3 linked regions of the Homo sapiens genome follow. The protein of the gene in region 3 interacts with the protein of the main gene of each other region in a pairwise test. Each region holds a gene or a part of one and is shown on either strand. Other genes may lie near its edges.

What was found.
Region 1: the proteins of SLC35E3 (region 3) and BNIP2 interact in binary tests that used the Homo sapiens proteins (3 or more experiments, as listed by UniProt).
Region 2: the proteins of SLC35E3 (region 3) and CSGALNACT2 interact in binary tests that used the Homo sapiens proteins (3 or more experiments, as listed by UniProt).

Annotation. Positions count from the first base shown.
Region 1 is NC_000015.10:59,675,609-59,679,362, forward strand, and holds part of BNIP2 (BCL2/adenovirus E1B 19 kDa protein-interacting protein 2), read right to left. Parts: intron 2,480-3,754; coding exon 2,303-2,479; intron 1-2,302.
Region 2 is NC_000010.11:43,155,308-43,159,061, reverse strand, and holds part of CSGALNACT2 (chondroitin sulfate N-acetylgalactosaminyltransferase 2), read right to left. Parts: coding exon 3,252-3,754; intron 348-3,251; coding exon 131-347; intron 1-130. UniProt on the Homo sapiens protein: Transfers 1,4-N-acetylgalactosamine (GalNAc) from UDP-GalNAc to the non-reducing end of glucuronic acid (GlcUA). Required for addition of the first GalNAc to the core tetrasaccharide linker and for elongation of chondroitin chains.
Region 3 is NC_000012.12:68,777,041-68,780,794, reverse strand, and holds part of SLC35E3 (solute carrier family 35 member E3), read right to left. Parts: 3' UTR 1-3,754. UniProt on the Homo sapiens protein: Putative transporter.

The sequences.
Region 1 (3,754 bases), on a different chromosome or scaffold from region 3:
AACAAAACAAAACAAAAAGAGTCCAAGTTTTACTTATATCCATAAATGACTTCTACAAGAATGTTCAAAGCAGTTTTGTTTATAACAGCCCAAGCTGGAAACAACTCACATGCACATAAAAAAAAACGGATAAGCAAATTATGGTTTATCCAAGCAATGGAAAACTACTCAGCAATAAGAAGGAATGTACTGTGGATACGTGCAACAACATGGATGAATCTCAAAAACTTCATGCTGAAAAGTAAACAAAAGAGTGCATAGGATGATTTTAGTTACTATATATGAAATTCTAGAAGAGGCAAAACTAATCAGGGGGTAGATATGACAGTGGCTACCGAAGCTGAGTATTCATTGCACAGGGGTACTAAATAATTCTTCTGGGACAATGAAAATGTTCTACATTTTTAGGGGTATGGGTTTTATATATATGGGTATATATGGTTATATAGGCATTTGTCAAAACTCATTGAACTGCACACTTAAGATCAGAGCATTTCACTGTTTATAAATTAGGGAGACTGTTCAGTCCCAGTTTTGGGTAGCCTAGAGACAGTTTAAAAAATTTTTTAATTTTGAGACAGGGTCAAAAACCAAAACAAAACAAAAAACTAGAGTGCAGTGGGATGATCACGGCCACTGAAGCCTCATCTTCCCAAGCTCAAGCTCTCTCTCCTCCCACCCCAGCCTCCTAAGTAGCTGGGACTACAGGCATATGCCACCACTCCTGGCTAATTTTATTTATTTTTTTATTTTTTTTATTTTTTTGTGGAGACGAGGTCTATGTTGCCCAAGCTGGTCCTGAACTCCTGGGCTCAAGTAATCCTCCTGCCTCAGCCTCCCAAATTGCTGGGATTACAAACCTGAGCCACCGTGCCCAACCTGACAGTTTTCACTACAAATTCTTTTGTACTTTTTCAACTTACTGTATGCATATAATCATTTTTAAATGGTACTTTTATTCTTTTACTTTAAACCTGTCATGTTTCTAAAATGAATGAGAAATGCTTATTATTCTTTCAAAATTACATAATATCTCTAGGCAGAGTTTCTAAAAGTATTTAGAATTCTGATATTGCATGAAACGGCTAGGGCAGGCGAGCGCAGTGGAGTGCCGCGCGGTGCGGTGCGGGCGGCAGAGTTGGGGTGTCATGGAGGATGAGCGGAGCTTTTCGGATATCTGCGGTGGCCGCCTGGCCCTGCAGCGCCGCTACTACTTCCCTTCCTGCCGGGAATTCTGCCTCAGCTGCCCTGGGCTCTCGCTGCGTTCGCTCACCGCTGTCACCTGCACGGTGTGGCTGGCAGCCTACGGACTCTTCACCCTCTGCGAGAACAGCATGATCCTCTCTGCTGCCATCTTCATCACCCTCTTAGGTCTGCTTGGTTATCTCCATTTTGTGAAGATTGATCAGGAGACTGTTAATCATTGATTCCCTTGGCATTCAGATGACTTCATCTTATGCTTCAGGCTAAGAAAGCACTACCTTCATAGAAATGGGCAAGGTCAAGGATATTGTCATCAATGAGGCTATTTACATGCAGAAGGTGATTTACTACCTCTGCATCTTATTGAAGGATCCAGTGGAACCACATGGGATATCCCAAGTAGTACCCGTCTTCCAGAGTGCCAAGCCCCGGCTGGACTGCTTGACTGAAGTATACAGGAGCTGCCAGGGGATCCTGGCACACCAGAAAGCCACATCAACAAGCCCATGAGCCCCAGCGTTCAGAAGGCCAGCATCGTCTTCCATGGGAGATGACTCTTAAGCCATAAGGGTTGGTTTTCCGTACTCCAAACCATCAGGTGGACACAGTCCTAGGAACCATTATGGATATAGTGCATCTCAGAGCCATAGAGCAGGTGACTGGAAATCTAACTCAGTATATTTCCACGTATTATAGTGTTTTCCTTGTAAGGTTTTGCCTACTTTACCAAAGGAGGGGAGACCTTAAGAATTTTGACACAGTATGTCAAAAGTAATGTCAGCAAAGAACATTGGGAAATTGCTAAGCATGTTCAGGTTTACTTTGTTGATGTTTGTGAAGCAAAACAATGGGAAACTGACATCAGATGTCTTGAGAAAGCTATATTTTCCATTAGTGCCCCTTGTGTAAAGTTACAAAAAAAACAAGCCCTCCAGGAACTGGTTAGCAGGAAGAAATGTCCTACAAAAGACGAGTCTCTCAACCTAGCGCCTGTGTTCTGTACAGGGCTTATTTACTCTTAATAAACAGATATCCTTCCAAAAAAAAAAGAATTCTGATATTGCATTAAACAATCTGAAAAATCCTCAGTAACTCTTACCCCCATGGCTGATAACTTTTTTATAGGGTTCAATTGCCTTCATATCAACCCTGTGGTCCTGTTCTCCAATCCTGAACATACGCCAGCGTCGTCCATCTTCTTTTTCCTCTGCTGCTGTGTATTCAGTAATTGAGCCTTTCCTAATTACTTCAGTAGTCTTGGGTTTTGGAAGATCATCTGTCAAAATACAAAGTTTTTGAATCACAAATTGTTACACAACAAAAATCAAATTATACGTTAACCACTTTACTACCTAGATTTTACAGAGAATTTTCATTATACCATCTGCACAATTTTCAATCTCTCTTCCATAAAGGAGGAAAAGGCTTATTCTTAACATGAGGCTGTTTTATGTCTTTGGAAATCATGGTTCTTTAACTTTTATTGCCCAATTTAGCAAAAACCACCTAATCATAGTGAAACGTGTATCCACAAGTTCAGAAAATATAATTTGTAGAGTCATCAAAATCTTAGTACACTGGCCTTACAATGCCTTTCCAGATTCAACTTGTGACAATATTCTCCCTGGCAGTTATGACTATAGGTTACTTCAAGTAGCTATCTGGGAGCCAATTTTGTTGTTGTTGAGCACATAAATTAACTGTAATACCAGATAGGAAGTGGTTAACTACTCAATGATCACTTCTCATTTGATCAGTTTTATAAAGCAGAAATGTATTTATAATACTTTGAAGTATACATGCAGAAGTCTATTTAAATTAGCATTAGCCAAAGCATAAGCACCAATGATTAAGTGTAATTTATGTTTTGAGATTGCAGTTTAGCTGATTTTCAATGTAGTAATAATTTTCAAAATTTCAGTATTATAGTCCTTACCAAAAGATGGGGGGAGGGGGAAACCTACTGCATGTTAGTTGTTTCCAAGACAAAGCTGTTAACGGAAAATATCCTTCCAGGAAATGACTACAGCAGCATTAAAGAAAGAAGAGACAAAACACATAGGCACAAAACTATTTCAGTATCTTTACAAAGTATTGCTTACTACTGGACTGTTTATTGAACCAGTAAAACAGGGAAGAAAAAAGAAACCAAAAATATAGCATATCACACTTTATTACAGTAAAATACTGAATGCTAAACACTACTATGAAAACAAAATCATTTTCAAGATGGAAAAAAATATGTAAAAATTATAACAACTATATATAAGATACTGTAGACAATTTTGTAATTAAAGAAAGCATGCAAAGTAAAACAGCACAATTCCTTTGAATTACAAGTAATAAGGAATACTAGGTTCGGGGGCTAAAAGTATACATTAATTTAAGTTGGTCATTTCACAAAGTAGAGCAATGTCAGGCAAACCTACTTAAAAAGTCACCCCAAATGCCTCCTTTCAGAACTCCCTTCCCACAAACTGTTAACTATATGTCTCTTCAAAAGTTTCTTACTTGATTGACTAAAAAAGAGCATGCCATAATTATCAAGAAA
Region 2 (3,754 bases), on a different chromosome or scaffold from region 3:
ATAAAGTTCCCCTAAAGCCTGTAAAATTATTCTAAGTAATTATAATCGGTGAAGATAAATTAAGGAAATCTGAGTAAAACGTGATTTTTTTTAGGAGAATGTAGCTTAATCATTAAGCCCTGACAGTTACCTGAAGTTCTGCATAAATTGTACAAATGCTTCAGTTCTTTCAGCAAGTGGCACAATGATATTAATAATTGATCTAGTGATGTCAATCATCTCACTCTTCACTTTCATGAGAGGTCCAAAAGGGCGGAAGAGGGTCACATGTCTATATTCCGTAAGGTCTGCTTTCTTAAAAAAGAGTTCATACTGTGTGCCCTTATCTCTCTCAGTGCGATAATAACCTAAAGGAAAGAGTTAGGAACAAAGACGTCTCCATGTCAAAGTTTACAAATTCAATGGGAAGACAGATTTTACTCACTTAAACATAAAGGGTATTAAACTAGACCTGCAGGATTTTTACCTATTTGTGAAAATACTTATCCCCACTGCACAGTAACAATTACTCGCTTAAAAGAAAAGGTTAAAAAAAAAGTTCACTGTTCTGTTATTTTATTCAATCTATAAAATATACTACAAATGACAATTGTTCCTTTTTACATACGACTTTTTAAAAATACTAGAGCCTATCAATATGGTAATCATGATAAATAAAGAAATTACTTCTAGCAATATTAAAATCTAGACCCAAGAGCCAAAATTTCTATTGGTTTAGGTCAACTAAAAGAAATCGAGTGCCTTCGTGTCAGTTATGTGATACAAAGAGTGCCACATGGTCTCAATTTTGAGGACAGGGCCAGTCTAGTGAAGGAGACAGAAAAATAGACAAATAATAACAATATAGTGCTATGTGATATATATATATATCTGTATATATATATGTGTGTATACATACATACATATAAAATCACTGACTAGAGTGAAGTCAAAGAAAAATTGGTACAGATTTAAACACAGTGATTTGAGATGCCTTTGAGAGAAAAGCATGCGCATCTACGAGGCAATCTGATTTTTTTTTTTTTTTTTTTTTTTAGACGGAGTCTCACTCTGTCACCAGGCTGGAGTGCAGTGGTGCAATCTTGGCTCACTGCAACCTCCATCTCCCGGGTTCAAGCAATTCTTCTGCCTCAGCCTCCCAAGTAGCTGGGACTACAGGCGTGTGTCACCACGCCCAGCTAATTTTTGTATTTTTAGTAGAGACGGGGTTTCACTATGTTGGCCAGGATGGTCTTGATCTCTTGACCTCATAATCTGCCCACCTCGGCCTCCCAAAGTGCTGGGATTACAGGAGTGAGCCACTGCGCCCAGTGGCAATCTGATTTTTAAGTATGGCGCTCAGGAGAGAGAAGAAGGTTAGACCTACAGATGTGTGAGTCACTCAGTAAATATCTGGGTATAAAATGGTGAATAAAATAGACTTGGTCCCAACCCTCCTGAGGCTTACACTTTAGTAGGAAGCACAAACCAGGAAATGGGCAATGCCACATACTGTGACAAGCAGTATGAATGTACAGGTGACAAGAGCACACAGAAGTACTGCTGTCTTAGACCTGAGGTTGCAGATGACTTCTCAGAAGAAGTGATATCTGAGCTAAAGTTTAGAAGAGGGATAGGAATTAGTTGTCATTACTAATTATTAGTAATTATTCTCCCTGCAGTGGGCAGACAGTGGCACAGTAGAGGAAAAGTGAGGAACAGAATATGTTCCATTTAGAGAAAAATCCTGAAGTATCAGAATCCAAGGAGAGTTATAAGACAAAAGCAGGAGCTGCAGAATATAAAACTGGCACAGCTCCCTTTCTTTTTAGGTAGAGCTGATGTGAGGACATTTTACACATGTTACTTAGTTATCTTATTTCCTCCGCAGCTTCCAATTCTGCCATAAGCTACAAACATACAGTGAGAAGACAAAAAGCTGAGCTTGCAGAAAAATCAGAAGAGTTTTGAGAAAAATAATCCATCAAAAATGGCAGGAAGTGACAGCAGAAAAAAGAGGAGGCCACAAGGAAAGGCAGCTGCAATGCCACTGCAAAGCATAATGCCCTCCCTGATGGCCTCCAAGGGCCTCAGTGTATTATAATAATGCTACAGTGCAGCAAGTGATGGCCATGATGATTTGGAGTCAAAAAGTCTACATGTGCTATACGAGGGGTCCCTAACCCCCAGGCCACAGACCGCTACTGGTCCGTGGCCTGTTTGTTGGGAACTAGGCGGCACAGCAAGAGGTGAGTGATGGGAGCCTGGCAAGCATTACCGCCTGAGCTCCGCCTCCTGTCGGATCAGTGGCTGCACTGGATTCTCAAAGTAGAGCAAACTCTGTTGTGAACTGCACATGCAAGGAATCTACACTGCACGCTCTTTATGAGAATCTAACTAATGCCAGATGATCTGAGGTGGAACAGTTTCATCCCAAAACCATCCTCACCATCCCATGGAAAAATTGTCACCCATGAAACCAGTCCCTGGTGCCAAAAAGGCTGGGGACCACTGTGATAACACAGTTTATAGAATCAAGCAAAGAGAACTTTCAAGAAACATTTATTTTTAAAATGGTTTAAGTCAGCAATTAAATGTCTAGCAGTGAGTGTAAAGGAGATGGGTAGGGATCTAGAATTATTACTGTTAATATCAATCAATATCTTAAATTTTATAGCAGTGTTCTTCAACCTCTGAGTCACATCCCATCTTGATACATAAAAATTCCATACCCTTTCTGAAATATGTATTAGGAAAACAGGTATTTCCTTACTTTTCCAAATGCCAAATGTGCTTTTTAAACTATGTATAACCCCTTGTTCAGACATGAGCTTCTCCTTCCTCCAATACGAAAAATAGCTAAGAGTCTACTAATTTTTTCTTTCCTTTATCAAATGGTTTTCAAGTTTTGAGTTTTAGTTTACACATTTTTTAAAAACATAAAAAAGAACACCAAGATCAGGTAAGTGAGGAATATAAATCATACACATGCAACAAGAGCTGTTTTATTCTATTTCCCTAGTCCTTATTCTCCATTTTTATTATGATCTCATACCTTTTTCCAGAAGGCCACTTAAAATTCTTGGTGCAATGAAGTGCAAAAACTTTCAGTGTTTTAATACTGTGGATAATGACTGACTTATATTACTAACATTTGTCTACAATACAATACTAGCATTTGTCTACAGTACAATACTACAATACAATACCAGCATACAATACTAGCATTTGTCTTACTAACATAATATTGACCAACATATTTTTCACATTACCTTCTACGAAGTCATTTTCATTAAATATCAGTTTCTCTCCAAGGGGACCCTCCTCATCTTCTTGTTCATCATCTTCATCAGGATTATTAATGACCTCCAAGCCCGCTTCAATAACTTCCACCAATTCATCTCGTTTGTCTTTTCTAACTGGCTTTTCTTCAGGATGGCGAGTGAGACCCATTTCCAATTGAAATACTTTCATTAAGGTAAAACTTTCAAAGGGAATGACCCCATACTCACTGGGTAGTTTGGCCCCTATGCTAACTTCAGCTTTGTCAATTTGGGAATGAAGAAACTCTAAAAGATCACTAGGTGCTTGCTCTTTGTTGCTCTGATAGCCTATGCCATTAGCCCCTACATTCCTTCTTTCTTGCAGTGACCGCATCTTCTCACTCATTTCTTGTAATTCTTGTTTTAGTTGGGCAATTTGGCGTTTCAGACTGGTTGCCCTGGTCTGATAATGTTCTTCTTGTTCCTGTAGGAGGGCTTGATAATACTCTTTA
Region 3 (3,754 bases):
AAGCGTGACTAGCTGGGCGCGGTGGCTCATGCCTATAATCCCAACACTGGGAGGCCGAGGCGGGCAGATCACCTGAGGTCAGGAGTTCGAGACCAGCCTGACCATCATGGAGAAGCCCTGTCTCTACTAAAAATACAAAATTAGCCGGGCATAGTGGTGCATGCCTATAATCCCAGCTACTTGGGTGGCTGAGGCAGGAGAATCGCTTGAACCCAGGAGGCGGAGGTTGCGGTGAGTCCAGATCATGCCATTGCACTCCAGCCTGGGCAACAAGAGTGAAACTCTGTCTCCAAAAAAAAAAAAAAAAAAAAAAGTGTGACTAGGCCAGGCAGGACGGCTCACGCCTGTAATCCCAGCACTTTGAGAGGCCAAGGTGGGCAGATCTCTTGAGCTCAAGGTTTCAAGACTAGACAGGGCAACATGGTGAAACCCCATCTCTACAAACAAAATATAAAAAAATTAGCCAGGTGTGGTGGTGCATGCCTGTAGTCCCAGCTACTTGGGAGGCTGAGGCGGGAGTATCACTTGAGGCTGGGAGGTCGAGGCTGCAGTGAGCCATGTTTGTGCCCCTGCACTCCAGCCTGGGTGACAAAGTAAGACCCTGTCTCAAAAAAATACAAAATAAATTAAAAAGTGTGATTTTAGAAATTGTTAAGATTTAAAAATAAAAATTTTGAGCAAATTTAAATAAAAATATAACTGGTTTGGGATAACCAGATATCCTGCATTTTAGAAATAATGTTAGAAACTGGGGCCAGAGAAGTGGCTTAAAATGTCCCTCTTCATCCCTCCCTCTATGCTTCACAGCATAACCCATATTTATCCACTTATTTTTAATTTAATTTAATTTTACTTTTAGAGTCAGGGTCTCACTTTGTTGCCCAGGCTGGAGTGCAGTGGCACAGTCATGGCTCACTATAACCTCAAACTCCTGGGCTCAGGCAATCCTCTGCCTCATCTTCCCAAGTAGCTGGGACTACAGGTGTCTACCACCATGCCCGGCTAATTTTATAAAATTTTTTATAGAGACGGGGGTCTTGCTGTGTTGCTCAGGTCTTGAACTCCTGGCCTCAAGTGCACCTCCTGCCTTGGCCTCCCAAAACACTGGGATTACAGATGCAGGCCACTGTACCTGGCCCCCATATTTATTAATCACATTTTATTCATTCATTCATTTAACTTTCCTGTGAAGTTTTGCAAATGGCTTCCTCAATTCCCCCTTGTTAAGCTTTTTTTCCTTCTCAAACCATGCTTATATCCTTTCTGGTTCCAGCCACATATTTTGGGTCAGACAGTCCTAGCACTGTACTTTTAATATCACCTGGAGTGACTTCAGAGACTTCTTTGAAGCCACAAGACCATCTGGTTCAATACCAATATTTTGAAATCTAATGACTCACTATTCTAGAACATTCTCAACATTAAGTTTCTTAAAGATGGCTTAAATACTTTTTAAATTTAAATAAATGTACAGAAAACAAAAATCTTTTCATTTAAAACCTACCAAATATAGCCACACATGGTAGGGCATACCTATAGTCCCAGTTACTCAGGAGGCTGAGGCAGGAGGATTACTTGAGCCAAGGAGTTCAGGGCTGCAGTGCACTATGATTGTGCCTGCAAAAAGGCACTGCACTCCAGCGTCGGCCACAGAGAAAGACCTAGTTTTTTGTTTTTGTTTTTGTTTTTGAGACAGAGTCTTGTTCTGTCGCCCAGGCTGGAATGCAGTCTGGAGTGCAGTGGCTCATTGCAACCTCCACCTCCTGGGTTCAAGCAATTCTCCTGCCTCAGCCTCCTGAGTAGCTGGGATTACAGGGGCACACCACCACGCCCAACTAACTTTTGTATTTTTAGTAGAGATGGAGTTTCGCCATGTTGGCCAGGTTGGTCTCAAACTCCTGGGCTCAAGTGATTCACCTACCTTGGCCTCCCAAAGTGCTGGGATTACAGGCGTGAGCCACTGCATCCAGCCATAAGACTCAGTTTCTTTTCTTTTTTTTTTTTGGAGATGGAGTTTTGCTCTTTTGTCCAGGCTGGAGTGAAGTGGTGCGACCATGGTTCACTGCAACCTCTACCCTCCCGGTTCAAGCAATTCTCCTGCCTCAGCCTCCCAAGTAGCTGGGATTATAGGCACCCACTACTACGCCCAGCTAATTTTTGTATTTTTAGTAGAGACGAGGTTTCGCCATGTTGGCTAGGCTGGTCTCAAACTCCTGACCTCAGGTGATCCACCCGCTTCGGCCTTGCAAAGTGCTGAGATTACAGGCATGAGTCACCACGCCTGGCCGGCAAGACCCTGTTTCTAAAAAACAAAATAAAAAATAAATCTTCCAACTATTTATAATATGATCTCTGTTCATCTTTACTGTTATAAACATTCCTCAGGTACTTGAAAGGAGTGTGTGTTCTAGGCTTGTTGAGTACAGATAACCTATTAGACAAGGTTACTAACTTCCCTGCTGCCTGCTCTATCACCTCTATTAGAAGTATTTAAAATCTCAATTTTCCTTTTAATTTTCATGCTGTTTTCTGGGTTGTTCATGATTGCTATGTTTGTGGTGGATTGTTCTTTAAAAAAAAAAATCTTGATCCTATTAACACTTTTTGCCTCAAATTCTATTTTGTCTGCTATTGATATTACTACCCAAAATCCCCGCACCCCGCCCTTTTTTTTGAGACAGGATCTCACTCTGTCACTCAAGCTGGAGTGCAGTTCACCATCACGGTGGCTCATTGCAGCCTCGACCTCCCTGGGCTTGGGTGATCCTCCCACCTCAGCCTCCCGAGTAGCTGGGATCACAGGCACATACCACCATACCTGGCTAATTTTTGTACTTTTTATAGAGACGGGGATTCACCATGTTGGCCAGGCTGGTCTTAAACTCCTGATCTCAAGTGATCCGCCCACCTTGGCCTCCCAAAGTGCTGGGATTATAGGCATGAGCCACCACACCCAGCCGGCAGCAAACTGTTTATGGACTGGTACTGGGGCCCAGACCCTACCTTGAGTGGTACTGGGCTAGAGGACTTATTAATTGCATGATCTAGGAGTAGTTCATAAATTCTGTGATGGTCATTCTTTGGGTGAACTCCATTTCTAGCAGATTCTAGATAAGCAGCATGACTTCCTCTGATTCTCTGACACCTGAGGGTGGGGAAATTCAGACTGTCCCACTTGGGTTGTGCGTCTTCACGCTGGGGAAGAGGGTGAGGCCAAAGTTGTGTTGGGAGATAAATAATGAAATTCAAGAACTCCATGGTAACAGCCCTTGTCTTTCCTCTCTGGGGCCACACAGTGCAGTGTGGGGAGAGGAGTGGACAGAAGGAATGTCAGCATTTCCTTGGCAAAATCTCTTGCGTTTCAGAACAGCAGTGAGATTTTGGAGGTATGAGAGAGTCACAGGTGTGACATTCCTGTGAGGAATGCTATTTGAGTACAAGCAGTGGATGTCCTCATGATGTTATGATTTCAGAAGAATAGCACTGTGCTTGGCTGAAAAGTTCTGCATTCAATAACTCCATGCCAATAAGCAGCCATTTCCTCCCAGCACACAGTTGCTCACCAATGTCCATGGTCCTATGGCACTGGGAGGCCTCTGATGCAGCTGTCTCCCACTATGGTCTTAGGAAATTCCTGGAACGTTATTAGAGTGAGTTTTTCCTAGATCTGCTTACTGAATACCTGTTGAACTTTCACACTGATGGCCAGTTCCAAGACTTAAGCATGACCTTGCGACCATTGGTGATAGTGCTT